Linked DNA regions of Homo sapiens: all the other regions are linked to region 1. The links come from fine-mapping of genetic effects on gene expression. A gene starts in region 1. Each other region holds a variant in brackets. All regions are shown on one strand. Distances are from middle to middle. Region 1 holds the start of VPS13A (vacuolar protein sorting 13 homolog A). Region 2 overlaps VPS13A (vacuolar protein sorting 13 homolog A). Region 3 has its middle 34 kb from the start of VPS13A. Region 4 overlaps VPS13A (vacuolar protein sorting 13 homolog A). Region 5 overlaps VPS13A (vacuolar protein sorting 13 homolog A). Region 6 overlaps VPS13A (vacuolar protein sorting 13 homolog A).

Evidence for each region. PIP is the estimated chance that this variant, and not a neighbour inherited with it, causes the effect.
Region 2: its variant is the best candidate, but not a certain one, in a credible set for the expression of VPS13A in ileum (GTEx, PIP 0.50).
Region 3: its variant is the best candidate, but not a certain one, in a credible set for the expression of VPS13A in caudate (GTEx, PIP 0.88).
Region 4: its variant is the best candidate, but not a certain one, in a credible set for the expression of VPS13A in whole blood (TOPMed, PIP 0.76).
Region 5: its variant is the best candidate, but not a certain one, in a credible set for the expression of VPS13A in visceral fat (GTEx, PIP 0.57).
Region 6: its variant is the best candidate, but not a certain one, in a credible set for the expression of VPS13A in visceral fat (GTEx, PIP 0.52).

What each region holds. Positions count from the first base shown.
Region 1 is chr9:77,174,665-77,179,742 of GRCh38, forward strand. VPS13A (vacuolar protein sorting 13 homolog A) reads left to right here and starts at 2,870. Exons shown (of 72, transcript NM_033305.3): 1 at 2,870-3,140. The coding sequence starts at 3,041. VPS13A-AS1 (VPS13A antisense RNA 1) reads right to left here and starts at 3,253. Exons shown (of 2, transcript NR_026668.2): 1 at 2,963-3,253; 2 at 2,092-2,242. RefSeq lists silencers at 2,498-2,827, 2,589-2,883, 3,866-4,035 and an enhancer at 2,589-2,883.
Region 2 is chr9:77,382,706-77,387,783 of GRCh38, forward strand. The region is part of intron 68 of VPS13A (vacuolar protein sorting 13 homolog A); the gene reads left to right. Among named protein-coding and RNA genes, the nearest start is that of GNA14-AS1, 62 kb to the right of the region's middle. The variant A/G (reference allele first, on the strand shown) is at 2,162.
Region 3 is chr9:77,141,237-77,146,314 of GRCh38, forward strand. No RefSeq gene overlaps it. Among named protein-coding and RNA genes, the nearest start is that of VPS13A, 34 kb to the right of the region's middle. The variant C/T (reference allele first, on the strand shown) is at 3,090.
Region 4 is chr9:77,319,266-77,324,343 of GRCh38, forward strand. VPS13A (vacuolar protein sorting 13 homolog A) reads left to right here. Exons shown (of 72, transcript NM_033305.3): 42 at 307-408; 43 at 1,904-2,062; 44 at 2,226-2,481; 45 at 3,802-3,962. Among named protein-coding and RNA genes, the nearest start is that of GNA14-AS1, 130 kb to the right of the region's middle. The variant T/G (reference allele first, on the strand shown) is at 2,936.
Region 5 is chr9:77,284,952-77,290,029 of GRCh38, forward strand. All of the region lies in intron 31 of VPS13A (vacuolar protein sorting 13 homolog A), which reads left to right. Among named protein-coding and RNA genes, the nearest start is that of VPS13A-AS1, 110 kb to the left of the region's middle. The variant G/A (reference allele first, on the strand shown) is at 2,539.
Region 6 is chr9:77,409,378-77,414,455 of GRCh38, forward strand. The region is part of intron 71 of VPS13A (vacuolar protein sorting 13 homolog A); the gene reads left to right. Among named protein-coding and RNA genes, the nearest start is that of GNA14-AS1, 36 kb to the right of the region's middle. The variant A/G (reference allele first, on the strand shown) is at 2,101.

The DNA.
Region 1 (5,078 bases):
GCAATGGTGTGATCTTGGCTCACTGCAACCTCTGCCTCCTGGGTTCAAGCGATTCTCCTGCCTCAGCCTCCTGACTAGCTGGGATTACAGGTGTGTGCCACCATGCCTGGCTAATTTTTTTTTTTTTTTGTATTTTTAGTAGAGACGGGGTTTCGCCATGTTGACCAGGTTGGTCTCGAACTCCTGACTTCAGGTGATCCACCTGCCTCGGTCTCCCAAAGTGCTGGGATTACAGGCATGAGCCACTGTGCCTGGCCTTAAGTAAGATTCTTATAAGGTTTTTACCTTTTTGCTTGTATTCCCCTTCCAGTGAATTTTTCTCTTTTTATTAAGGATTGGAACACATGGTCTAAAGAATTTTTTTTTTTTTTTCACTGTGTCACCCAGGCTGGAATGCAGTGGCACCATCATAGTTTACTGCAGCCCCAAACTCCTGGGCTCAAGGGATCCTCTCACCCTTGGAGTAGCTGGGACTACAGGCATGTGCTACCATGCCAGGCTCCAAATAACTTTTTATTGTTTAAAATTTTTAAAGCATAAACAGATGGAGCACAGGGCTCTGTGAAGTTAGATCAGTAAAAGTCCCATACCTATAAAACGGCCATCTTCTACACTTGTTCCTCCAGGACATCTTCTGCTTCAACAGCTTTGTGGTCTGCTTCAACAGCTTTGTTATCTGGCCATCTAGCCTGCTACCACAATGCCCATGGGGAATGATAAGGACAAGCAGCCCACCAATGACATTTACTTGTGGACAAAAGAATTAAGATTAGGAGAAAAAAAAATTCCAAGATTACTACCAGTACACCAAAACTTTAAAGACGAAGAGCTGTGGCATGGAAGGTATACATAAAACTGCAAGTCCTACTTGCAAAGTTAGAGATTTATTGTAAAGTTAGATGATATTGCAGTTTGGGGTCATTCAGATGCTCTCCCCCTCTTTTGTTTTTCCATTTGATCAAACAATGAAGTATAGCATTTTAATTGTGATCTAGAGAAAGAATAACATACACTGACATACTTCCTAATTTGAAACTCGAGTTTTTATGGTAGTCATTGGGCTTATTTTTCAAGGTACAACAGAAATTTGGTTTAATGGTTTAATGAGCATACCTTTTACATGATGATGTTAATATATTTTTGCTTACAAACTTCCTTAGATGGATTAAGCAATGCAAAGACTGAATGCAAAATGTTGTCTTTTAGTATTTACAAAGCATGTTCATATACATCTAACACTAGATAAGAATTCGGTTACAATATGCATCCACTTATTTCTAACTCTTCCTCAGCAGAATTTTTTTTCATTGCTTTATGCTTATACCTCTAACTTTTCAGCAACATCCCTTCCCCTTCCTCACTTCCACAAAATTTTCCTAGATCGTAGAAAACTAATATGAAAACGTTTGCAAGATACTTAAGATGGATTTTTGGAGTTCTGGAAATTCTTGTAACTTTGAATTTGCAGCGCTAGATATAACAGCGGAATTTTGCAGCTACTGTGTATCTGGCTTCTTATTAATAGTGCAATGGCAAAATGCCTCATTATGTAGAGCTCTTCCCCTTCCTAGGCATTTTAGCCTCTATTCGTTTCTCCGTGCAGGTATTCTGAAGCAGACTGTTAGCTGAATGAGAGAGAAGCAGGTGGGGTGGTAGCCAATCAGAAGGGCCAAGTTCCAGTTCTTCCACAGAACATTGGTTGTATGACCTTGCACACATCCCTAACACTTCAGCTTCATTATATTTAAGACTAGGAGGTTGGAGACCTCATAAAGGTCCTTCAAATATAAAATTATATGAAAAACATTCATAAACTCAGGTAAAAACTTACAGTTTTTGTCAGGCATTCTACTTGCAAAGGCACACCCTAAACATTTAATTTTGAAAAGTCGGTGACTATGCACAAAAAGTAGTAAAATGACACAGGAATTAATAGAAATCCATCATTATTCATTTAACGTGTAAAGAGAAAACGCTCAATGTACACTTTTTCGGTCCTGCAGATGATTAATTACAGTTCTCTAAACCTCACATTTAGCATCTCTGTGACCTCAGGCCTTTGGGATTACTTCTAAGTAAGACCAAACAGGTCGAAAGATCTGTAATTGTAATTTATTTTAGGTCAGTGGTTCGGTGGAGGCATAGGGGTCAAGGGTCCAGCACTCCCAGTATTTCTTGGAGGGTGTTCAGCAGTTTCCAGACCGGCTGACTCCAACTCTTATCTGCAGGGAAGCGTGTTACTCTTTGGAATGAAAGACAGCTCCGTATAAATGACTTGACCAAAAATGGGTGCTCATCTCAGATGCAGGGCAGGGACTATGTAACTCCATCCTCGACTCGCAGCAGGAAGTTAACTCCTCCTGAGAGCCAGGCGGTCGGAGGACCAGGCGGGGAGGTTACAGGCACCAAGACACCCAGGCTGGCTGGACCCTCCCACCCTGTAATGATGAGGGGAGATGCTCCCTGGGACAGCCCCCTTGAAGCTTCTGGCGACGGGGCTGGGATCCGCCCACCCTTACTCAGGGGCGAGCCCTGTCATACGCGTGGAAGCGGCCACCACCTTCTAGGGGGAGGGGCGTTCCCGTCGGGCGTAACCGCCCCGCCCTGGGGGGCCGCTGGGGACGCTGATCTGCAGGAGGGGGCGGGGTCGGAAAAAATCCGGTAGCTCCAGACCGGTGTCCCGTTGCCAGGCGATGGGGAGGAGGCGGGGCCGACAGGAAAGAGGAGCCGGGCTCGGCGCGAAAAGGGCACCCTCCAGAGCCGCGGCCGCGCAGCCGCCTTTCCTCCCTCTCAGGGCTGCGCGCCCAGGTCTGCGCCGCGCTCCGCCTCCAGCCGCGCGCAGACTTGCGCACGCGTCGTGAGAGCGACCGCCTCCGTCTCTCGCTGGGCTCGCTAGGGCTGCGCGTTGGGCCAGCGGGGGCGCCGCAGCTGAAGCCGCCCCGGAGCCGGTGAACCGAATTACCTCGAGGGAGGGGCGTGGGGAAGGCGGCGGGAGGAGGAGCGCACGGGCCGGCTGCCGTGCCCACCACGGCTGAGGAACATGGTTTTCGAGTCGGTGGTCGTGGACGTGTTGAACCGGTTCTTGGGGGACTATGTGGTGGACTTGGACACGTCCCAGCTCTCTCTGGGCATCTGGAAAGGTAAGGAGGCCGCCGCCGCCGCTCCCCGGCCTCTCGTGCTTCCCGGCCGTCTCGCTGCCCGAGCGGCGTCCTGCGTTCTCGGGGCTTCGAGCACCTTGCTCGCCGGGTGCAGCCACCTGCCGCCGCCCGCCTGTGGGTCAAGTTACGTAAAGCCGGGCGGCAGTTCCCTGGCCTCCGCCCTCGAGTTGTTTATATTTTGGGGGAAAGGAGAGGGTCATGAGTGCGGGATGAAAAGGTCTATATTTTCCGAGCGGAGCGGACTTGCCGTGGGCTCCGTGGGTCTGGCGTTCAAGTCCCGGCGAGGGGCCGTTCTCTACCCCTGGCCCCGCACGGTCCGGCTTTAGCCGCGCGGGGCGAGGAGGCGAGACGACGCCTTCCTGGGCTGGGTCCCATCCCTGTCCTTTGCCCCCCTGGGTTTATGACGAAGGCCCCAGAAATCCCCCGCGTGTTGCATGCTGCCTCGCACGTGAAGGCAGGGCGCTGTGACCGGGGACGCCCGCTTCCTTGCTTCCCCAGCCTCAATTCCTGGCTTCACCCGTGGTGCTTTCTGCTCTCCCCCTTCCGGCCCTAGGACCCGGACGCCGGCTCTCTCTCGCCTGGGTTCGGCGGATAACAAAAAGGAAACTCAAGTGCAAAGTAACTCAAACAGTTGCTTGTGTGGTTGCAGTTAACAGCCTGACCTAGGAATGTGTAACATTTTCAAGACTTTAGGATATGTGGGTCAGAGTGAATTGCCGAATTTTAAAGAAAAACCAGGGCGTGCGGTGCAACGTCTCAGACCTGCAAAAGACCGGGCTGAACAGGGCCCTACGCTGCCTAGGTGGTGAAGGACCGAGCTTTCCTTGTGTCCGTTTAGTGTGGTATTCTGCCTTAGTGAGAGCCTCATTTTTAGTGTTTCCATCTGTTTTTGCATTATGCGCTTGTTTATTTTAAACACCCGCTAGAAATTAGACTCCTTTGTGAAATGAATTTCCCAGGCCAAAGTGAGGGTTAATTTTGTGTGTGAAGTGTGTGTGTTTAAATATATATTTAAAGTAATTTATTCTTGTCTGTGCACACACTTCCAGTCTTCTTCTAAAATACTTACCTTGACTCTTCTCGTTTATGAGATAATGTAAACAGGTAGTTTAGTTTGATTTTAAAGAATGTTACTACCGTGGGGACCTAGTATCATGATGGAGAGTGAGTGGACTACAAAAGCTAGGGATATAGTGATAGCTGCTCAGCCTGTTTGATTAGTACAAGAAACTTGCAGTCTGTTTATGCTGCTTCTTAGTTGCAAAGTGAAAATAAAATTTGTCTCCCATGTACCTCAGAAGGAAGCCTTAAGAATACTTGAGGTGAACTTTGATCTGTAGTGGAGTCTTGCTTCCACATTCAGGGTGGAGGTTTGTCTAGAGTGTGATTAATCAACTTATTTATTTGTTTAAAATTTACATGCAGTAAAATTCACTCTTGTGATACAGTTCTGTCTTGACAAATGCTAAGAGGCATGTATGCACCACCACAATAATGGCACATAAAAGGTTCATCAAGCCTCCCGAATTCTCTCAGCTGCTCCTTTGCAGTTGATCTCACCCCGCCACCACGCCCGGCTAATTTTTAGTAGAGAGGGGGTTTTGCAATGTTGGCCAGGCTGGTCTCAAACTCCTGACCTCAAGTAATCCGCCTGCCTCTGCCTCCCAAAGTGCTGGGATTACAGGCGTGAGCCACTGCGCCCGCCTGACTGTAAGTATTTATCTGTTTGCTGGTTGAAGAATATTTCAGTTTTTGGAGGTTATAAATAAAGCCGTCATAAACATTCACGTACGGGTGTTTGTGTGAACATAATTGTTATTTCTCTTGGATAAATACCTAAGAGTGGTTTTAAATTGGGTTGTACGTTTTTTTTTTTTTTTTGAGATTTATTTCATATACCATAAATTTCACTCTTTTAAA
Region 2 (5,078 bases), 210 kb after region 1:
CTTAAATGGCCATGACCCTCTTCCTGCTTTATTCTAGTGTAGTCTTTATAAAACTTGTGGGATTTGATAAGCAGTTCACATGCAAACCAGTATCTTTTAATAATACAAAGTAGCATCTGGAACAATAGACAGTTTGAAGTTAGAATCTGCTTAGACAACTTTCTTACTTGGTAAATTCGACTTTTTAAAACCTGGATTATGCTGTAGGTAACTAGTAATCATATATAGGCTATACCAGTGTCATGTTGTTTCTGTGGTTTAGAGGTGGAATACTAAATTAAATCATTTGTTTGAAAACAAACAAGGAATCATTATGTTATGTAGGCTTGCAGATACTCATGGTAGCAATAAACTGTTGGAATATGAAGCTTCCTTTATGGCTTTAATATTTTAAATATTGTGATATTTAATGTGATCAGAGTAAAGATTTAAACTTCAGTATTTTACCTATTGCAGGGCATATAGTATTGCATAAAATATACTTCTAACTCTTTCTCTGAGGCTTCTAATATACAAAAATGTAACCATAGAGTTAATATGCAATATTTAGTTAAGTGATTTTATACTGTATTTAAAATGTTTTTGAAGCATCAAAATCATTGTATATTGGGATAGAACTGGTAATCTATTAAGAGGTTGTGCTCTAATGGACAGATTGTGCAGTCTCTACAATGACAGTGTATCGTTCTTTGGAAGATAGTAAATTTGCAGAAGTCACCCATGGCTGATACAGTCAAAACATGTATTTCTACCCAATACCTGCCTTCCCTTGTTAGAACGCATTTAACAAGTTACTAACATTTTACTAGACTAAAAATCAAATATAGTACGAAGTAAGGATGAGTGTTGAGGAGAGTTTAGGAATATATCCTCATTATAAGTGAGCACGTTATGATACCCACAAGGAAGCCATGAGATACCAATAATTTCTCATGGTTGATAATTTGATTTTAGTGAAGCTTCTCATTGTTTTCTGAAGCTTTAAACTTTGAGATGTAAAAACATGACTTTTGACTGTGTACTTTTAAAGATACATATTTATTTTTAATAGGTCAGTCTCATCATTAATCACTAAAAGAGCTATTTAAATGACTAAAAACCACAGCACTTGTCAGCCATTACTTGTTTTTCAGCAAGCATTTACACAGTATTAGCTGAAATATTTGTAGGGATTCACCAAGTACCTTGGGATGTTGCAGTTAGCATTTTTTTCTTACAGGTATAAAAAGTGGATTGTTGTTTTGATGGTGGTGGGTTTTGTTTTTTTTTTTTTAATCAAAGCTCTAGTGTATTATTAGCAAACACTTAAAAAATATGTAAATACCAGTACTGTGGAAAATAATTAGATGACACATAAACTGGATTTAAAATCCATCTCATCTGCCTAGATTTTATGTAAGTGATATAATGAAGGTGCCTTAAAATATTTGATACTTTCAAATGTTTCTCATGTTATTTTCTTATTTTCTAAAAAAGATGTATTCACTAAATTATATACACTCATATAATAATTAAATATAAAATACATTCTTTTATTGTGTACCTTTCTATCTAGAAGGTAGCACATTATTACAGTGTTTCCTGCTGGTCAAAGTTGCCTATTAGAGAAATAGAATGGTAATTTTAATATATTCACAAAATACCTTATTGATATCATCAAACCAATTTATACATTGAGTTTGTACCAACTAGTGGAATTGTCTTAGGTCTATTAAGTTATGGAATATTATATCCATAATTACAGTCTGAGTCATAGCTGAAAAAATCTGCTTTAAAATTATTCTCACTCTTTGAACATTTCATAATCTTACATGTTTTCAAGCAATTTGCCATACTCTACTAACCTTTGTGCTTCTTTTTTCCTTTGCCATGCTTACAGAAAATTCAATTCTACAGGGAGTGGATTATGACTCACAGTAGCAGTAGTGATGATGATGATGATGATGATGATGATGATGAGTCAGATCTAAACCATTAAAATTCATATGTTCTTTATTTTACTTGGAATGTTTCATTAACATGTTTTGTATGACTTATACCATAATGCCCATATGTCCATTTATAGGGAGGTAAAACACATTTTCTTTTAAAATGTTTTCCTACACATTTTCATAAAGCAAAATAATTGTATTATTTAAGCACAGAAAAAAATGTATCTTAC[A/G]TCCAAAGTAGGGAGGGCATCCAACATATTATAGATTTGCTTTTATATATTTTATAGCTTTGTATTGCATAGTTTGTCTTTAAGAGTTCAAGTTAGACTTAAATATAATTTTGATGTTCACTGGTTTTATTTTAAATTGCCTTCTTATTTGTTAGCAAAATGCCTTTTTTTAATGGTCTCTGTAAATTTTCTGGGCTTTAATGTAATGCCACTGTGTAAAAAAAAAGGAAGAAAATAGTAATAGCCATTTAATGTTTTATATTTATCATTTTAAAGATATTTTTGTCAAATTTCTTTTAATAATAATAAACATATGTAATCTAAAGGAGTGTGAATTTGTTGTTCTATCCCCAAATCATATAGATTGAACTGCTATTATAAAAAACAGTCATGGCCTCTCATGGAAGAGTAGATAGTAAAATAATTTATAGTCTGAGAATGAAAAAGACCGTTCTTTTATGTCTTTGCTTTACTTTTTACCGTTTTGTTTCACATATTTTTTGTGAAACAATGAACAAAGTTGGTTTTAATAGTCATTATATTCACTTATTAATTTGTATATGCATCTACTATATTTCTATTATGAATTCAGAATATTTGGAAACTTCTATCGTAAACATAACTATATATATTTTTTCTGTGTAATATTAGGGAAAATGTTACATATATCTCTGAAAGATCCATTAGTAAATCTATTTTATGTTTTGTGTAATAAAGGTTTTTAAAAAAATTTCAACATAGATGAAACTGTCCTATTTCTCTAACATATCAGACGTACTTTAAAAAATTCTCTAAAAAGTATATGATCTTTGGTAGTTAGAATGTTTAATCCCTATGACTGCTGTGCTTTTGGATCAACAAAGGAATATTTATCTTGACTACAGCAGAAGCTCAGTATAAGCAACAGGTGATTTAATTTAACTGATTCAGCACATGATTTCTGAGTCTCCTCTAATTCTTAGGTTTATCAAGTTTTATTTCTATAAATCATTCTCTATGTTTTTTGAAAGTGACTACTTTAAATTTGAAAATATTGAGATTACTGCAAAAAAAACTGAAAAAAATCAGCTTTTTTGAAATTTCTTCCTATGCAGAATTCATTCAAATTAAATAGAAATCAAGGTTATGTATGTAAAATTTGTTTGAAAACAAACTTACTAATATGTAAACATCATAAAGTTGTTTTAAAAAACTGTTATGTAAACATCAAAAAATTCAATTATTGTTTTAATCACAGTATTTTTATCTTTTTAGAATAAGTACATACAAATAGTGACCATTAAAATAGTCATTGCTTTATTGGAAACCAACTTTGTATTTGTTGTGCACCCACTCCTCTCTCACCCTTGGCCAAAATCAAACAAAACTTACTGCTCCTTCTAAAATCTAGAAAGAATACTGCCTATTTTTGTATTTTGTATATGCTTAAGGAAGGAAGAGTCTGGAAGTTTCTTCATTGGCTTCTTACATTCCAACTTTGCTAGTCACAAGGCCTTTGTAAAAGAGACTGTGGAAACTACTTGTTTGCAAGACATTTCCCAAATTTACTGTGCTTGGCCTGTGACACTTAATTTCATGGAATGGGATTCATAAAGATGATCTTAACCTTTCATTCCTTAAGAATTTATCGGAAAAAAAAAAAGTTGTGGTTATCTTAGCAGTGATTTACCATTTTCATGAAAAGAAAATTGGAGGTAGGATTACATTTATTTAAAATTTCTTCAGTAAAAATATTTTAAATAATATGCTAGTAACTAGTAAACATTGCTTGTGTGGTCTTAGAGTTTCATCATTCTTCAGTTTTTAGCCCTTAGAGATGAGATGTGCTCTTTATTTTTTTTTTTTAATTTTTTTTTTTTGAGATGGAGTCTCGTTCTGTCGCCCAGGCTGGAGTGCAGTGGCGCGATCTCGGCTGACTGCAAACTCCACCTCCTGGGTTCACGCCATTCTCCTGCCTCAGCCTCCTGAGTAGCTGGGACTACAGGCTCCTGCCACCACACCCGGCTAATTTTTTGTGTTTTTAGTAGAGATGGGGTTTCACCGTGTTAGCCAGGATGGTCTCGATCTGACCTCGTGATCCGCCTGCCTCGGCCTCCCAAGGTGCTGGGATTACAGGCGTGAGCCACCGCACCCAGCCGAGATCTGCTCTTTGACAGTGTAATTGCCCTTGTTTTTCTGCCACAGTGAAATTATCTTTTCAAACCTCTTGAGGACAGGTATTAATTGTGTTCCAGTTTTGAAAAAAAACTTGAATTTTTCTCTAGTAAAAGCAAAAAAAAAAGACAGAATTGCTCTTTTGTTTTACACCATTGTTCTCTTGATGGAGATAGAGGATCTAGGCAAAAATATATTCTTATTTCTTATCAAATATATAGAAAATGAATTTATATTTGGATTTTAATAAGATGAACTCTTGTTTATCAATGGTTCTATAATTAACTAGAACTTTTAAAATGGTAGTATCTAACAGGAAAGTCTAGTGAGAAAGCTGTTTGAAAATTATGTAATGCCACACCTTTCCATATGCTTTAACTTCATTTATGTTCCAGATTTCTGCACGATCATTGCTTATGTATAGAAAATGGGAAGGAAGGTTCACTTCCCTGAAGGAGTGATTACCTGGAGATTCCTTATTTTCCTTTGTGTCTACCTGACGCTTGAATAACATATTGAAAACGGGCAGGAAGAAAAATTTGTAAAAATCTGTAATTGTGGACACTCATAACCATAGATAAATAATCTAAGCCTGTAAATGAAATTAATTAGTACTCACATGGGATATAAATAAAACAAATGTAAATTCAGAATAATATTGCCAATTTTCAGTATTATAGAAAAGGAAGTCAAATTTTGTTTCCTTATTTAAAATAATCAGTATTTTATAAATTTGTTTTTGAAACTATTCAAAACACATATC
Region 3 (5,078 bases), 33 kb before region 1:
AAAAAAAAAATCTATAGTTGATGCCAATGAAATGTCACAAATGAGGTCAAATAAACTAGGAAACCACCCGAAACTCCACTATGTAAGGCAAGAGAACATTGAAGGAAGAAAATGAATTGGAACTGAGAAAAATAATAGTAAAACTCTATAGGATTAATAAATTATCAGCATTGTTTGTACTATAAATGTTCAGCAAATTGCAATCAACCCTGGAGGAGTTTGTTGTAGAAAACGTGTCTTAACTCTGAACCCTATATTCACATGTGGCATGTACTTCTCTTTTCACTGGACACAAATATGGCTTTTATAATCAGAAGAAGGTAACTTCCTACACAGTTGACATTTCCAAGCATCATTTATAATTCACAGGGACAGATTTTAGATTGAATCAGTATGTATTATCTCAAATCTGCATTACCTAGTCGAAGTTCTGTCATGGGACTCATTAAGGGATATAACTGAGAACAAGATTTTGAATTGTGTCTACAAGTAAATGAATAAAATGTTAATATTTCATTAATGACTGCTAAGTTCTCATGGGTTCTATTGTACTCACTATAAAATGTATAGTGTTTGCCAAAATATATGATCTTATTCTTTGAATAGTTTATTTTACAGATATAGAATCTGAGGCTTAAAGGAAAATTGGCAAAATTGGAACTAGCACCTATGCCTTCTCTTTGTAAACCAAGTAGTGTGTTATTCATCAAACTATGCCAATATCCGGAAAATCAGGGCTCCACCCTGCCTGTTTCTAGAAGCACCCTTCCACTTCTATCCGGAATGGATCTTCAGTCCCTACATTCATGATGGCTGTGTCTGGTGCTTGCTAAAGTGTCTGTTCTGATTGATTTCTTTTTTTTTTTTGAGACGGAGTCTCGCACTGTCGTCCACACTGTAGCGCAGTGGCACGATCTTGGCCCACTGCAACCTCTGTCTCCGGGGTTCAAGCAATTCTCCTGCCTCAGCCTCCCAACTAGCTGGGATTACAGGCACCCACCACCACACCCAGCTAATTTTTTGAATTTTTAGTAGAGACAGGGTTTCACCATGTTGGCCAGACTGCTCTCAAACTCCTGACCTCAGGTGATCCACCCGCTTTGGCCTCCCAAAGTGCTGGGATTACAGGCATGAGCCACTGCGCCCAGCCCTGACTGATTCTTAATAATTTGAATATCACCCTTGATCAATACAAACCTATTCAGTACCAGATTTTCAAGATTGCTAAAGGTAGTCACGGGGATTAAATCCATTCTGAAGATTGATGGCATAATATGAACATTAGTCAAGTGACTTACTGACATGTGCTTAATGAAAGCTATAACTGTTGAATAACTGAATAAACATTGGACATTAGCCATTGTTTGGACTTAGTATAGAGTAATTTTTTATGGGAAAGACAATGTAATAGCAGGATGTAGACAACTTAATCCCCAGAATAAAAGATAGCTATCTTAATCTGATGGTATATGTAGGCCTGCAATTATATTTTAATAGTATGCTTTATTCAGTTTAGATAGCTATAAATATCTTTCCTTGTCTCTACACAGTTTGTCTAATCAGATTTCAGTGACTGCATACTATGCTAATGGATATAGATTTGATTTTAACTATGACATTACCACTTTAAGATTAAATGTAATGGTAATAATGCTTTTGGTAAACTCACGTTTGAGTTTATATGATACAAGCCATTAAAATATTACTTTTTTTTTCAATGAGTTATTATTTTGATGATTTAGGCTCCTGAAAGTCTTGTAATTCTAAGGTGTGAACTAACTTAATTTATCTTGGAAAATGTGAAAATGTTCCTTGAAGGTACAAATTACTTTCACAATAAATACCAAATGATTTTGATTTGCTTAACATAAAATTTAAATCAATATGTTACATGCTTTTGTAGGGAATATGTCTGTCTATACATTATTTCTGTGGACAATAAGGAAAAGATTCCAACTTTGGAAAACTAGAATATAATGAGTTTGGAATAAAAAAGTAAAGCCCTATTCACGGCCATTGTGTTATTATGTATGATATAATTTTCACAATCAAAAAATACCATTTGGATATTCATGCTATCATGGTTGTTTGGTACTTTGACTGCTGCCGCTGTTTCAGCTCAGACAAGAGTGTGATTTCATCCTGAGGTCAAATCCCATGCAAGCACGATTTATCGAAGCAAAATTTCATCTCACAAAAGCGTAATGCATTCTGCCAAACCTGTTCATGCCAATGCAGGTCATTTAATATATAATTGGCTGCAGCTGGCACTCACACAAGCTGTGACATTTTCTATCAGCAACAGGGTAGTATTTGGAATGCCAAAGAAACAATTACATGCTGCAGATGAGAGCCTGAAGTGGAAAAAGAGGAAATGCAGTATTAAAGAAACCAGCCCTTTTCCATTTCAAAGAGGTAGTGAGGAAGCTACAGTACCTGTCATTCTACTTTCTTCTATAAAATGTGAGAAGTGAAGAAAAGAGAAAATATTGACTTGGGAAATAAAGGATGAAATCATTTGGGGTCTTCTGTTTAGAGAAGGCAAATAAAATAAAGAGAGTATTAATTAAAAGGACCCAGAGACCACTTAATATTAAGGAAAAATGGCATTGACTCATAAAATGTCCTTCCGTTGGTAAATAAAGGAGAGAGAAAAAAACTGAAAGATGAATGGAGGAAAAAGGAATGAAAGAAATAAAGTAAGAGAGGAAGTAATCCTTATAAAAAGAAAATAGACCAGGAGAATTTGGGAAAATAGAAACCTAAATAAAAAACTGTAGCATCAGTAGATTACTTTAAACGCTTGTTTTCTCTAGTAGTTAAATGTAAAATAATATAACAAGGATACAAAATTTTGGGGTCACCCATTAGCAAAGATTAAAAAGAAATTTAATATCCAGTTTGGGCAAGTATGTGGAAAAACAGTCTTGTACACTGCTAGTGGAAATATAAATAAATAAACTGTGTGTGGAACTAATGGGTAAAACTTTATTAAAATATTCATACCCATTGACTCAACAATTCCCCTTGGCTGTGCATGGCAGCTCACGCCTGTAATCCCAGTACTTTGGGAGGCTGAGGGAGGAGGA[C/T]TGTTTGAGCCCAGGAGTTTGAGACCAGCCTGGGCAACATAGGGAGATCTGCCTCTCCAAAAATTAAAAAATTAAAAAATAGGTGGTTGCAGTGGCACATGCCTGTGGTCCTAGTTACTTGGGAGGCTGAGGTGGATTGCAACAGAGCAAGACCCTGTCTAAAAAACAAAGAAACAAACAAAACAAAATAAAACAAAAATCCTTATAGGAGAGACACATATAAGTATGAAAATATATGTATACAAGGATATTCTCTGCAGAATGGTTTATGGTCAAGAAAAATTGAAAAACAACCAAAATAAGCATATGACATTTAAGTTCATCCATACAGTGAAATGCTATACATAAGCTAGAAATAATTAATAAAATCATATGTTAATAGAATGTCCAATATATATTAAGTGAAAGTGCCTACAGTAGTAGTAGTAATACTAATAATGAGCATAATAAAAAGTTAATATTGTATGATTCCAACTATATGACATTCTGGAAATGGCAAAACTATGAAGACAGTAAAACAATAAATCAGTGGTTGCCAGAGGTTAGGGGAAAGGGAGAGGTGAATAGGCAGAGAACAGAGGATTTTTAGGGCAATGAAATTATCCACTATGGATACTTGGATACAAGTACATTCTACATTGTATCTTGATATATCTAGAAGATATAAGATACAATGCATCTTGTATCTGCATTGTATCCTGTATCTCAGTGTACAGAGCTGGATCTGCAATGGTGGATACTTGTCATTATACACTTGTTAAAACCCATAGAACCTACGACATCAAGAATGAACCCTAATGTGTATATGGATTTGGGGTGAGAAGGATATATCAATGTAGAATCATGGACTGTAACAATGTACCACTCTGGTGGGGGATGTTGATAGTGGGGAAGGCTGTAGGGGAAGGAACATGGGAACTCTCTGTACTTTCCACTCAATTTTGCTGTGAACCTAAAACTGATCTAAAAAAATAAGGTTTACTGAAAATTTTTAAAAATTAATATTTATCCAGTGGTATGATCACAGCTCACTGCAGCCTCAACTTCTCTGGCTCAAGCAATCCTCCCACCTCAGCCTCCAGAGTAGCTGGGACTACAGGTGTGCACTATCATGCCCAGCTAATTTTTTATTTTTTTTTGGAGACAGGATCTCTCTATGTTGCCCAGGCTGCTCTCAAAATCCTATACTGAAGAGATCCACTCACCTCAGCCTCCCAAAGTGCTGGGATTACAGGTGTAAGCCACCACATCCTGCCAAGAACTTATTTTTCATGTCGTGCTAATCCGTTTATAGCATTATCTCATTTAATTCTCACAAGAATTTTATTACATAGGTAGTATTTTTATCTGCAGATGAGGAAATCTGAGACTTACAGAGGTTAAATAAACTGCCCAAAGATGCTCATAAGAGACAGAGCTGTGTCTGAAAAGCAGATGCTCCTGGCTCCCACATCCAGGCTTTCCACATGGGGCATGGGACTTACTGGGCTCCCAAGACCAGGTCTTGTGTAGATTCTCAAAGTCCAGATTCCCAAAGTATAAACAATCCAGTTTTAGAAGAATTATCTTACTAAATGCATAGGAAAAAATACAGAGTGTTGGCCAAACTGTTAACATCCTTTATTAAGGAGAAACTGTTGGATTGTATTACATTCTGTTCATTTCTGCAAGGTTTGTAATTTTTTATAACAGCACTTACTTCTCTATAAAAAGAACAAAAACCAATAAGTTTAACAAAATGCATAATTTTTTTTTCTTTTTTTGAGACAGAGTCTCGCTCTGTCCCCAGCCTGGAGTGCAGTGGTGCCATCTCGGCACACTGCAACCACCGCCTCCCGGGTTCAGGCAATTCTCCTGCCTCAGCCTTCCGAGTAACTGGGACTACAGGCGCACACCACCACGCCCAGCTAATTTTTGTATTTTTAGTAGAGATGAGATTTCACCATGTTGGCCAGGATGGTCTTGATCTTTTGACCTTGTGATCCGCCT
Region 4 (5,078 bases), 140 kb after region 1:
TTCTGAATATGTGGATAATAATCTCTTCTAATAGAAATATGAAGAATTAGAAATATATGCCTTATACTTTTATGTAATGTAGAATCAAGGAAAGATGCTTAAAAAGGGGTTTTATCTGGACTAAATTGTGAAGAGCGAATATGTACTATGAAGTTAGCCAGGTGAGGAAAATGCTGAGGGAGTGCTTATAGGAAGCTACTGAATGGCATGTAGACTGGTTTTTATATAGAAGAAATAACAGGGCTAAAAAACATGGTGGGAAACAGGATGGAAGATCATTTTTAATTTAAAAAATTCTCTCTGTAGGTGCATTATTATAATGAAATGTTTGGTGTATGGGAGCCTTTGCTTGAACCCTTAGAAATTGATCAGACTGAGGATTTTAGACCATGGAATCTTGGTATCAAGGTATATCTATATATGTCTATGTGTGTATATATATATATATGTATTTTAAAAGACTTTATTTTTTTAAGAACAGATTTAGGTTCACAGCAAAATTGAGAAGAAGGAACAGAGATTTCCCGTATACCACCTACTTCTGCACATGTATAGCCTCCCCCTTTATTAACATTCCCTCATCAACGTATATTTGAAGACTGAAAAAATTTTCCAAAATTGAGAATGTTTATACCACACTCGACACTTTATTTTAATCACAACAAGGTTCAGGTTGTCTCATCATGAGCCTTGCCCACATGCTTCCTTGTTTGCCCTCTGAATATAATTTTCAAATCTAAGGCCAATGTTGCCTATGCTTCTAATACAATTATGTAACAAGTATTATGTTACTTGTTACATAATTTAGAACAATTTAGAACATAATTTAGAACACAGTTTAGACATTGTTCTAAATATTTTAATCCTTACAACAACTCTTGGAGGTAGATACAGTTTTTATTTAACATGTGAAGGGACTGAGACCAGGGAGGTTAAGAGACTTCTTGAAGTAATAATAGCTACAAAGTGGAAAAGATGGGATGCAAATCCAGCTGCAGAGGCGTTAAATCCACTCTAAACCACTATGCTATAATGCCTGTGTCATCATCTTGTAGGTTGTTGTCTATCCTGAGTTTCCTTCATCCTTTGGATGTTTGCATGTGTGCAGGAATGTATATTATTTGTTTGAAATATATTGTGGATTTATATAATCATGAGAATCGGGGCCTTTAGGTGGATGAAATTTTGCTTCTGAAGCAAGAGACTGCAGAATTACTCACGTGTTTCCTACCTAATAATGACTTGGTCAACCTGCAGACAGATTTTCAGTGGCTTAAAGCCAGTTAAAGTAACAACAGAGGTGACTAGCTTAGCATGTTGAGCTCTTTTCATATTAGATCACTTAATTTTATTTTCCAGATATTTTAGATGAAGGATATGAAAAGGAATTCCTTGGTGGTTTTTAGGTTAGAATACACATGGTCAGCAGATCTGTGACTCCTAAAAAATGGTAAAGGGTATTGATTCTTATGAGCTCTAGGTTTATAACACTGTTCTGCTACTATTGTCTGCCTTTGTAAGTCTCTAGGTTTCTGTTCTTTATTATTAGCATGACCAATACATTAAGTTACTTTTTTCTGTCTGAGTTTTTATGTTGCTTTGAAGTATGTGCTTTTATATTCAGATCCCGGGTACACATAGTAATTTTAGGTTTTTATTTTTCCTTCTAAATTGTGTCTGCCATTTTACTATCACTGATGATGACATGATTTATTTTCTCTAATACTTCTGTCCTTTATGACCTTAGTTGGCTGATGTCCAAGTAATTTCAATAAGGCAATAGAACTTACTGAAATTAGAAAAGATAAAATGTACTGACCTTTCTAATGTTGGTATTGGGATTTGTCTAGTTATGTTGTGTTCTTAGAATTTTTCCTTATATTTCTATGATTTATCATTTTAGATGAAAAAGAAAGCAAAAATGGCCATTGTTGAGTCAGATCCTGAAGAAGAAAACTACAAAGTGCCAGAATATAAAACTGTCATCAGTTTCCATTCAAAAGACCAATTAAACATTACATTATCCAAATGTGGTCTTGTAATGTTAAACAATTTAGTCAAGGTAAGAAAAGAAATTTGAAACTTTAAATATTGAGATACTTGTCTGATTGATCTGTCTGTTGAATAAGAAGTTTAATAACTTAGTTGTCATTTGTCCTTTACTGTTCTCCTTGTCATTTAATTTTACACATTTCATTTTATTTAGCATAACTCTTTCTTATTAGGCATTTACAGAAGCTGCCACTGGATCTTCAGCTGACTTCGTAAAGGATCTAGCACCATTTATGATTTTAAATTCCCTTGGACTTACTATTTCTGTTTCGCCAAGTGATTCTTTTAGTGTACTCAACATTCCTATGGCAAAATCATATGTATTGAAAAATGGAGAAAGTTTAAGTATGGATTATATCCGAACCAAGGACAATGATCATTTCAATGCAATGACCAGCCTAAGCAGCAAACTCTTCTTCATTCTTCTTAGTAAGTAGTTGAAAAATTACCTTCCTGGGGCTATTTTGTTTTAAATTACAATTTACATGTTATTTTACTCTTTTGTAGAATCTTAGCAAGGTTTTTTTTGTTTTTGTTTTTGTTTTTTTAAAATATCCTTTCTAATAGGTCAAGAACTGTTTTTTGTCTTTGCAGTGTCTTGGTTACTATTGTTACTAAAACTTTGTATTCCAAACTCTTTCTTTATCCTCTGCATTATTTAGAGCATGGCAATTTACTGCTTTGTTGTTGGGAGGAAAAATATTAGATCTCGCCCTCATTCTGCTTTTATAGACCGTGGATGTTTAGATGTTTGTGGGGGTTCTTTTATTCACATTTGGTATCCGTTGATAGTATTCCACCAGTTTTGCAACTGAAAGAATTCTAAGTGTGAATTCATGCAGATGGCAATTTTTAATGGCTTTAGGATTTATAAATGGTTTTT[T/G]TTTTTTTATGTTCTGCCTGTTGAGATGAAGGTTTTTTCCTTTGTCTTTTCTGCTTCCCAAAAGTTTTTCATTTTTATTGGAGGTGAAATATATACATTCTTAAAGTATCATAATATGTAGTCATTGTGAAGTTAAATAGTCCCAGAGCCTCACCTACACCACTTTTTGATACTCTGGCATTTAAGTAATTATTGAGGAGGGCATCATTTAAAAGATTAATTAGACATAGGGGGGTAGGCTACTAAAATAGCTTGTGTTTCTAGTTAGAAAATAACATGTAACAGGTGTTTCAGGTGTTGTCATAGCGTTGTAATTAATGTTCTTATAAATTTTACGTCTTTTTTTTTAACATTTTTATGGATGGGATGGTAAATGAAATTTATGCAAGTAAGTAATTTTATCCCCAATACAACATGTGTTTTAGGTAAATATATATAAAATTTTATTTAATCAAGTCCAAGATATAAAGGAAAAGTGACACAAGTTGTTGGAAAAATTAAAAACAAAAATTGTAGTCACCTTGATATTTACCAATGTCTACCAAAAGGTATTATGCTCTGGTTATTCTGACAGCAAACCAGAGATCAGTATTCTTGTATTTTATAGTACTTGCTCTCATTACTCATTTTTGAAACGTTTGCTATTGTTGTCTTGGGTTAAACTCCTGAATGGGAGTTTTTTAATTAATGCTGTGGAAATATATGCTGGCTTCTTAAAATATCCCTTTTATGGACTATATCCAAAGACTCTAGTGACTATTATTTATAAGTTTAAGAATCATCTGAAATTTCTAATATGTAACATATGTAAAATTAATATGTAATGAATTATAATAAAAACTTTTAAACATACTTACTTAATTTAGCACCTGTTAACCATTCTACTGCTGATAAGATTCCTTTAACAAAAGTGGGACGACGTCTGTACACTGTAAGACACAGAGAGTCTGGCGTTGAAAGATCTATTGTTTGTCAAATTGATACAGTAGAAGGAAGTAAGAAGGTCACAATTCGCTCCCCAGTGCAGGTATGAAATGATCAATTTTGGGGGATGTCCTGTTATGCATATCTGTGTGCTAATAAAATTAAAAACAACAACAACAAATTATTACTGAAAGAATATAAACCGTAACAGTAATACAGCTGATATCAAAAAGAAGACTCACTACCACCAGTTGCGCTACTTGGTTATGACGGGTGGTAGGAATTTGTTCAATATACTTCTTATAATTTTTTAATAGGAATATTTTGTAAAATCTTCTTACGGTATTTTTTATAAATAGTCATCAGTGTTTTGCTTTAGGTCTTTGTAATGTATTTATATCCTTTCTATTTGATTAGATAATTTTTAGAGAAATAAAAAAATTTTACAGCTTTATTGAGGTATGTACAATAAACTGCATATATTTAAAGTTGATGACTTTTGACACAAAAATGCACCTTTGAAACTGTCATCACAGTCACGGTAATGAACATATTTATTTCTTAGAAAAATTTTCTGTTTCCCCACTTTCCCATTCCCAGGCATCCACTGATCTGTCCTCATTGTACATTAGTTATATGGCCTAGGATTTTACATAAGTGGAATACAGTACAGATGGAGTTTGACTTTCATTCAGAAAAATTTTGTATGTATGTGTCAACTTATGTGTATCCATGTTATTACATGCAGTTACTTGTTGTTGCTCAGTAGTAATCTATTATATGTATATGCCGCATAGCCATTTTGAGTGAACCTTTGTATACAGTGTGAAGTTAAGAATTGAGGTTTTGCTTTTTTTTTCACCATATGGATTTTTTTTCCAGAGGATTTTAGGTCCTTCTCATTTTTATATAAATTTGAGAATCAGATTATCAATTTTATAAAAAATCTGGATAAAATTGGCTTGTCCTTTAATTTTTAAATTCTGATTACTCATTGATAGTATTTAGAAATACAGGTTATATTAACCTCTACTTGCAGATTTAACTAGACTTACATATTCTAGTAGATTTGTGTAGATTTAGATAGTTATGATAGCTGCAAATGAAGACATTTTTACTTTTTCTTTTTCAATCTGGATGTGTTTTATTTTATCTTGTTTATATTGCCTATCACACTGGCTAGAATACAATTCGAGTAGAAGTGGTGAGAGCATGTTTT
Region 5 (5,078 bases), 110 kb after region 1:
GTCCCGGCCTCCCAAAATGCTGGTATTACAAGCATGAGCCACTGTGCCCGGCCTGTAATTTTATTTTTAATATATCTACAAGGTTAAAAATTCAGTTTACAGAAAGTTACAAAATAAAAAAAATCTTTCTCCTTGTCTTCTTGCACGATTTTCATTTCCCTTTCCCTGTTTCTTTGATTCCATTGTACATGGTTTTTAAACAAACTGCCTTGTTTAGTAACTTTCCACGTGTCAAAGAACCAGAGAGGCATAAGGTTTTTGCCCTTATGAAATCAGACCTGATTATGAATCAGTTTCATAAGCCTTGTACAGCGATATATATTATTGTGCCAGTTTTAAGTGTACTGAGACATTGAGGCCCTCAACTTTAAGGGTGGGAGCCCCCAGACCATTTGTTTGACTCTGTCTTGGAGCAGCATCCTCCATTTACTGTAGCACCATTGGACAAATACTGTTTTTATTTATATATGCCATAAGGTAAAAAGGATTCTTGCTGACCTGATAGTCTCATGAAAAACATATCATAGTAAATTAGTTTCTGATATCTTCTTCATAAAAAATATTTTGAAAGTAAAGGCTTAAAAAAATCCAATTTTTAATGCTTAATTCTTGGTGATGGGTACACAAGTCTTTCTAATTATTCTCAACTTTTCTGGCCTTGTTATTAGGCCAACACTTGCTTCATGAAATGAGTTGGGAAATGCTTTCTTCCTGTTTTCTGAAAAATTTGTATAGAATTTGCATTATTCCTTAAATGTTTGATGGAATTATCAGTGCAAATATTTTTTGTGTATAGTTGAGTCTGGGATTCACTTTATTTTATTTTCCATATGGCATTCAGTATCCAAAGGAGATCCACACACTGCATTTGATTGATATACCACTTAAGTCTGTTATAGTTTATGAATTTCCTTTAGTTTCTTCTCTGCCCTTGTGTTAGCCATTTGTTGCTATCTTATTTATTCTGTACAATTTTCCATAGCCTGTATCTTGCTGATTATGTTTTCATGCTATTTAACATGTTACTGTATCCTGTGTTTCCTTAAATCGGTATTTAAATCTCAGGGCACAGTGAGATTCAGGGTTTGGGAGTAGGGGTTGGCAAGATACTTCATAGTTGGTAGTGTGTGTTTTCATAGGAGGCACATAGTGTGTAGCTGTCTTTTTTTTCTTTTCTGTTTTGCACTGTCTTGGAATATTTTCTTTTTTTTATGTTAGAAGCTATTTGTTGTTATTTCCTGTAATTTGGTCTTGAAGTCTGTGTCTGGAGAGTGGCCATAAGCCAAAATAGCCACTTTCTAGCTTGCAGGCATGTTGGTCAGATGGGACATCGGGGAGGCAACACAACAAAACACCCTCGAGGGGTGCCCACCAGGGAGGCTGACAGGAAGTCTGGAGGCAGTAGGGACGTTTCTTCATTTATTAAATGGGAGAGTTCACCAGTCTTTATGCTGGTATCACCAATCATTTTGGCTTTTCAAAAGTTTATTCTCCAGTAGATTTCTTAGGCAGGGCTCATAGGAACAATAATCCTTATTTATATTTGCAGGGTAGTTTGACTGGATTTTAAATTCTTGCCTTGAATTTTCTTTTCTAGATGATCTTAAAACATATTACTCCATGTCTTATGGCCTAGTATTGGTGTTGACAGTTCTGATGACAGTTTGACTTTCTTTCGCTTCTAAGAACTTTGCCATTTTCCCCAGACATTCAGAGCTAATTTGAAGCTTTATGTAGGGACTTTGGACAGGTAGACATCACAGTTGATGGTCAGGAACTGGTCTAGCAATTTTATGGGTTCTCAGATTGAGAGTATCTCTTGTTCTTAGGCTAGTTAGTTTCCGTTGAGAAAAATACTATTAAGTATAAGCCTGGCAGCCTACATTCCAGAAGCCAATTGGTTGAAAGAAGTGGAGGCCTCATCATTTAGTTTATAGATTTTTGCTTAAAATAACCACTTTTTAACATGGTGTTTTATTAACCGTCTTTCTGTACCTGAAGTCTCCTAGACCACAGCCTTTCTGCTCTAAACTCTGTCGAGCAAATCTGTTCTGTTGAACTCGGAGAGGAACAGTCATATAGTCCTACTCATGTGACATGCAGAGGCTATTCGGTTTATTCTAAACTAATTTACCAGTATTTATATAATTATATAGATACAATTTATACATTAATATATATGTAAATTATATATGTATAAATACTGGTAAATAAATTAAGAAAAAACTAATTATATATATTATATAATAATATATTTTATATATACATAAAATTCTCTCTCTCTCTCTCTCTCTCTCTGTCTCCAATCACACAATCACAGCTCACTGCAGCCTCGACCTTCCCTGGCCCAGGTGATCCTCCCACCTCAGCCTCCTGAGTAGCTAGGACTGCAGGTGTGTGCCACCAGGCCCAGCTGATTTTTGTAGAGATGGGGTTTCAACATTTTGCTCAGGCTGCCCTCAAACTCCTGAGCTCAGGCGATCTACCTGCCTCGGTCTCCCAAAGTGCTGTGATTACAGACATGAGCTGAGCCACAGC[G/A]CCTGGCCTATTTGAGATACTATAGTCAGCAAAAGATAAAAAGCCCTTCTCCACGTGGAATAAATAGTAGTTAATCAGTAATATAAAACAATATTAGAGAGTGATATGTGCTTTGAAAACCAAGAAAGCAGGGTAATGTGACAGGTAATAATTCACGTGGCGTATTAGGATTATCAAGAAATGCTTTTTTACAGTAGAAACATTTGACAGAAATCTGAGCTGTGGATTTGAGCCCTGTTGAAAGAGCTTTCCAGGTGGAGGAAAGAGCAACTATAAAAGCCTTGTAGCAGGAAGGTGCTTGCTATATTCTGGGAGGTTTTAGGGCCCTCAGTAACCTTTGGGTAGAATTATTTATTAGTTTCTGTTTTGGTTTAGTTTTTACTTTTTAAAGTAAGATTTATTGAGACAATTTACCTATAGTAAAACTTACCTCTTTTAGTTATAATTCTGTGAGTTTTGACGAACATATACTGTTGTGTAACTTACCTTCAGCATATACAATGGGTCTGTCAACCCTAAATATTCACTACTGCCCTTTGAGGTTAGCCCTTCTCCCCATCCTAGCACCTTAGAATCACTGCACTGTTTTTCGTTCCTGTAGTTTTGCAGTTTCCAAAGTATCAAATAAATGGAATCATGCAGTTATGTAGTCTTTCACGTTTTTTTTTCTTAGCATGTGAGATTATAATTTTTGTCTTTTTATGTCTTGATCAGCCTGGTTAACGATGTATCGATTTTATTGATACTTTGAAAGAACTGGCATTTGTTTCAATTGAATGTTCTCTGTTTTTAATTTTATTTATTTATGCTCTTTTAAGATTCCTTCCTTCTGCCTGCTTTGGATTTAATATGCTCTTCTTAAGGTGGAAGTTTAAATTATTGATTTGAGAATGTCTTTCTGTTGTAAGCATTTGCTGCTATAAATTTTCCTTTAAGCACTGCTTTAGCTGCTTCCTGTAAGTTTTGATATGTCATATTTTTATTTTCATTCAATTCAAAGTATTTTCTAATTTCTCTTCTGACTTTCTTTTACCCATTGTTTATTTAGAAATATGTTATTTAACTTCTAAATATTTTGAGATTTTCAGATCCCTTTCTGTTACTGATTTCTAGTTTAAATTCATTATGGTCAGGGGAGAAACCGTTTCAGTTCGTTTAAATTTGTTGATGTTTGTTTTATGGCCCAGAACATATATGATTAATCTTGGTGAATGTTTCAAGTGTACTTGAAATTAATATGTGTTTTGCTGGGTTGAATGTTCCATTTGGGCAAGTAGGTTGGTGGATAGAATTATTCAGGCTACTGATTTTCTGTTTACTGGTTGTGTTGAAGCCTCTGATTATAACCATTGATTTGCCTGTTTCTCCTTTCAGTTCTTTAAGTTTTTTGCTTTGTATGTTTTGGAGATCTCTTGTTAGGTACATATAAATGTGTATGAATTTTATGCCCCTTTTGTGATTATGTGATGTGTCTTTTTATCTGTGGTAACTGTGCTTGTTCTGAAGTCTACTTTGGTAGTAATATAGCCATTCCAGGTTTCTTCGGTTAGGTTTGAATGGTCTATCTTTTTCTGTCCTTTAGCTTTTAATGGATGTTTTCTTGTTTAAAGTGGGTTTCTGTTTTTTGATGCAAAGTCTCACTGTGTTGCCCAGGGTGGTCTTGAACTCCTGTGTTTAAGCTCGCCTCAGCCTAAGTAGTAAGTAGCTGGGATTATATGTGCATGCCACCACATCTGGCTTAAAATGGGTTTCTTACAGTCAGTGTATATTTAGATCTTTCTTTTTTATCTAATCTGACAATCTCTTGGCTTTTAATTTGTGTTTAGACTATTTTATAAAACTAATTATTGATATGATTGGATTGTAATCTGATATCTCTAATTGTTTTCTGTTCTCTAATTTTGTTTATCCTATTGTATTCCTCCTTTTGGCCTGATTTTTGATTAATTATCATTTATTTTATGGTTTCTCTAGGGTTTACAATGTATATATCTTTAATCATAGTCTATCTTCCAATAATATTTTATTGTTGTACATATAGTGTAAGAATCTTACAATACCATGCTTCCAATTCCCATTTCCTATCTTTCTTGGTATCATCATAATTTGCTTTACTTTGGTGCATGTTGAAAACTCACAATGTGTACCTATTGAATTTGGTTTAGTCAGTTTTCTTTGGAGCAATTAGTTTTCTAAAGATGTTTTATATTTTTCTTCATTGCAACTCTTTCTGTAACTACTTCATGTAGTTTCTGTCTATTGTTTGTATTTCTCTCTGAAATACTTTCTCATTTCTTTTTTTTTTTTTTGAGACAGAGTCTTGCTCTGTCGCCCAGGCTGGAGTGCAGTGGTGCAATCTCAGCTCACTGCAACCTCTGCCTCCGGGGTTCAAGTGATTCTTCTGCCTCAGCCTCCCAAATAGCTGAGATTACAGATGTGTGCCACCACACCTGGCTAATTTTTGTATTTTTAGTAGAGATGGGGTTTCACCATGTTGGCCAGGCTGGTCTTGAACTCTTTGACCTCAGGTGATTCACCCA
Region 6 (5,078 bases), 230 kb after region 1:
AAAAATCAGAGTACCTCTCCTCCTCCAAAGGAACGCAGCTCCTCACCAGCAATGGAACAAAGCTGGATGGAGAATGACTTTGACAAGTTGAGAGAAGAAGGCTTCAGATGATCAAACTACACCAAGCTAAAGGAGGAAGTTCGAATCCATGGCAAGGAAGTTAAAAACCTTGAAAAAAAATTAGATGAATGGCTAACTAGAATCACCAATGCAGAGAAGTCCTTAAAGGACCTGATGGAGCTGAAAACCAAGGCACGAGAACTAAGTGACGAATGCACAAGCCTCAGTAACTGATGCGATCAACTGGAAGAAAGGGTATCAGTGATGGAAGATGAAATGAATGAAATGAAGCGAGAAGAGAAGTTTAGAGAAAAAAGAATAGAAATCAACAAAGCCTCCAAGAAATATGGGACTATGTGAAAAGACCAAATCTACGTCTGATTGTCATACCTGAAAGTGATGGGGAGAATGGAACCAAGTTGGAAAACACTCTGCAGGATATTATCCAGGAGAACTTCCCCAATCTAGCAAGGCAGGCCAACATTCAAATTCAGGAAATACAGAGAATGCCACAAAGATACTCCTCAAGAAGAGCAACTCCAAGACACTTAATTGTCAGATTCACCAAAGTTGGAATGAAGGAAAAAATGTTAAGGGCAGCCAGAGAGAAAGGTCAGGTTACCCACAAAGGGAAGCCCATCAGACTAATAGCTGATCTCTCAGCAGAAACTCTACAAGCCAGAAGAGAGTGGGGGCCAATATTCAGCATTCTTAAAGAAAAGAATTTTCAACCCAGAATTTCATATCCAGCCAAACTAAGCTCCATAAGTGAAGGAGAAATAAAATCCTTTACAGAAAGGCAAATGCTGAGAGATTTTGTCACCACCAGGCCTGCCCTAAAAGAGCTCCTGAAGGAAGCACTAGACATGGAAAGGAACAACCGGTACCAGCCACTGCAAAAACATGCCAAATTGTAAAGACCATCAAGGCTAGGAAGAAACTGCATCAACTAACGAGCAAAATAACCAGCTAACATCATAATGACAGGATCAAATTCACACATAACAATATTAACCTTAAATGTAAATGGGCTAAATATTCCAATTAAAAGACACAGACTGGCAAATTGGATAGAGTCAAGACCCATCAGTGTGCTGTATTCAGGAAACCCACCTCACATGCAGAGACACACATAGGCTCAAAATAAAGGGATGGAGGAAGATCTACCAAGCAAATGGAAAACAAAAAAAGGCAGGAGTTGCAATCCTAGTCTCTGATAAAACAGACTTTAAACCAACAAAGATCAAAAGAGACAAAGAAGGCCATTACATAATGGTAAAGGGATCAATTCAACAAGAAGAGCTAACTATCCTAAATATATATGCACCCAATACAGGAGCACCCAGATTCATAAAGCAAGTCCTTAGAGACCTACAAAGAGACTTAGACTCCCACACAATAATAATGGGAGACTTTAACACCCCACTGTCAACATTAGATCAACGAGACAAAGTTAACAAGGATATCCAGGAATTGAACTCAGCTCTGCACCAAGCAGACCTAATAGACATCTACAGAACTCTCCACCCCAAATCAACAGAATATACATTCTTTTCAGCACCACACTGCACTTATTCCAAAATTGACCACTTAGTTGGAAGTAAAGCACTCCTCAGCAAATGTAAAAGAACAGAAATTATAACAAACTCTCTCTCAGACCATAGTGCAATCAAACTAGAACTCAGGATTAAGAAACTCACTTAAAACCACTCAACTACATGGAAACTGAACAACCTGCTCCTGAATGACTACTGGGTACATAACGAAATGAAGGCAGAAATAAAGATGTTCTTTGAAACCAACGAGAACAAAGACACAACATAGCAGAATCTCTGGGACACATTCAAAGCAGTGTGTAGAGGGAAATTTATAGCACTAAATGTCCACAAGAGAAAGCAGGAAAAATCTAAAATTGACACCCTAACATCACAATTAAAAGAACTAGGCCGGGCACAGTGGCTCACGCCTGTAATCCCAGCACTTTGGGAGGCCGAGGCAGGCGGATCACGAGGTCAGGAGATCGACACCATCCTGGCTAAC[A/G]TGGTGAAACCCCGTCTCTACTAAAAATACAAAAAATTAGCCGGGCGAGGTGGCGGGCGCCTGTAGTCCCAGCTACGCGGGAGGCTGAGGCAGGAGAATGGCATGAACCTGGGAGGCGGAGCTTGCAATCAGCCGAGATGGCGCCACTGCACTCCAGCCTAGGCAACAGCAAAACTCCATCTCAAAAAAAAAAAAAAAAAAAAAAAAAGGAACTAGAGAAGCAAGAGCAAACACATTCAAAAGCTAGCAGAAGGCAAGAAATGACTAAGATCAGAGCAGAACTGAAGGAAATAGACACAAAAAACCCTTCAAAAAATGAATCCAGGAGCTGGTTTTTTGAAAATATCAACAAAATTGATGGACCGCCAGCAAGTCTAATAAAGAAGAAAAGAGGGAAGAATCAAATAGATGCAATAAAAAATGATAAAGGGGATACCACCACCGATCCCACAGAAATACAAACTACCATCAGAGAATGCTATAAACACCTCTATGCAAATAAACTAGAAAATCTAGAAGAAATGGATAAATTCCTCAACACATACACCCTCCCAAGACTAAAGCAGGAAGAAGTTGAGTCTCTGAAGAGACCAATAACAGGCTCTGAAATTGAGGCAATAATTAATAGCTTACCAACCAAAAAAAGTCCAGGACCAGATGGATTCACAGCCGAATTCTACCAGAGGTATAAGGAGGAGCTGGTACCATTCCTTCTGAAACTATTCCAATCAATAGAAAAAGAGGGAATCCTCCCTAACTCATTTTATGAAGCCAGCATCATCCTGATACCAAAGCCTGGCAGAGACACAACAAAAAAAGAGAATTTTAGACCAATATCCCTGATGAACATTGATGCAAAAATCCTCAATAAATTACTGGCAAACCGAATCCAGCAGCACATCAAAAAGCTTATCTACCATGATCAAGTGGGCTTCATCCCTGGGATGCAAGGCTGGTTCAACATATGCAAATCAATAAACATAATCCAGCATATAAACAGAACCAATGACAAAAACCATATGATTATCGCAATACATGCAGAAAAGGCCTTTGACGAAATTCAACAACCCTTCATCCTAAAAACTCTCAATAAATTAATTAGGTATTGATGGGATGTATCTCAAAATAATAAGAGCTATCTATGACAAACCCACAGCCAATATCATACCGAATGGGCAAAAACTGGAAGCATTCCCTTTGAAAACTGGCACAAGACAGGGATGCCCTCTCTCACCACTCCTATTCAACATAGTGTTGGAAGTTCTGGCCAGGGCAATCAGGCAGGAGAAGGAAATAAAGGGTATTCAATTAGGAAAAGAGAAAGTCAAATTGTCCCTGTTTGCAGATGACATGATTGTATATCTAGAAAACCCCATCGTCTCAGCCCCAAATCTCCTTAAGCTGATAGGCAACTTCAGCAAAGTCTCAGGATACAAAATCAATGTGCAAAAATCACAAGCATTCTTATACACCAATAACAGACAGAGAGCCAAATCATGAGTGAACTCCCATTCACAATTGCTTCAAAGAGAACAAAATACATAGGAATCCAACTTACAAGGGATGTGAAGGACCTCTTCAAGGAGAACTACAAACCACTGCTCAGTGAAATAAAAGAGGATACAAACAAATGGAAGAACATTCCATGCTCATGGATAGGAAGAATCAATATCATGAAAATGCCCATACTGCCCAAGGTAATTTATAGATTCAATGCCATCCCCATCAAGCTACCAATGACTTTCTTCACAGAATTGGAAAAAACTAAAGTTCATATGGAACCAAAAAAGAGCCCACATCGCCAAGTCAATCCTAAGCCAAAAGAACAAAGTTGGAGGCATCACGCTACCTGACTTCAAACTATACTACAAGGCTACAGTAACCAAAACAGCATGGTACTGGTACCAAAACAGAGATATAGACCAATGGAACAGAACAGAGCCCTCAGAAATAACGCCGCATATCTACGACCATCTGATCTTTGACAAACCTGACAAAAACAAGAAATGGGGAAAGGATTCCCTATTTAATAAATGGTGCTGGGAAAACTAGCTAGCCATATGTAGAAAGCTGAAACTGGATCCCTTCCTTACACCTTATACAAAAATTAATTCAACATGGATTAAAGACTTAAATGTTAGACCTAAAACCATAAAAACCCTAGAAGAAAACTTAGGCAATACCATTCAGGACATAGGCATGGGCAAGGACTTCATGTCTAAAACACCAAAAGCAATGGCAACAAAAGCCAAAATTGACAAATGGGATCTAATTAAACTAAAGAGAGCTTCTGCACAGCAAAAGAAGCTACCATCAGATTGAACAGGCAACCTACAGGATGGGAGAAAATTTTTGCAATCTACTCATCTGACAAAGGGCCAATATCCAGAATCTACAATGAACTCAAACAAATCTACAAGAAAAAAACAGCCCCATCAAAAAGTGGGTGAAGGATATGAACAGACACTTCTCAAAAGAAGACATTTATGCAGCCAGAAGACACATGAAAAAATGCTCACATCACTGGCCATCAGAGAAATGCAAATCCAAACCACAATGAGATACCATCTCACACCAGTTAGAATGGTGATCATTAAAAAGTCAGGAAACAACAGGTGCTGGAGAGGATGTGGAGAAATAGGAACACTTTTATACTGTTGGTGGGAGTGTAAACTAGTTCAACCATTGTGGAAGTCAGTGTGGCGATTCCTCAGGGATCTTGAACTAGAAATACCATTTGACTTAGCCATCCCATTACTGGGTATATACCCAAAGGATTATAAATCATGCTGCTATAAAGACACATGCACACATATGTTTATTGCGGCACTATTCACAATAGCAAAGACTTGGAACCAACCCAAATGTCCAACAATGATAGACTGGATTAAGAAAATGTGGCACATATACACCATGGAATACTATACAGCCATAAAAAATAATGAGTTCATGTCCTTTGTAGGGACATGGATGAAGCT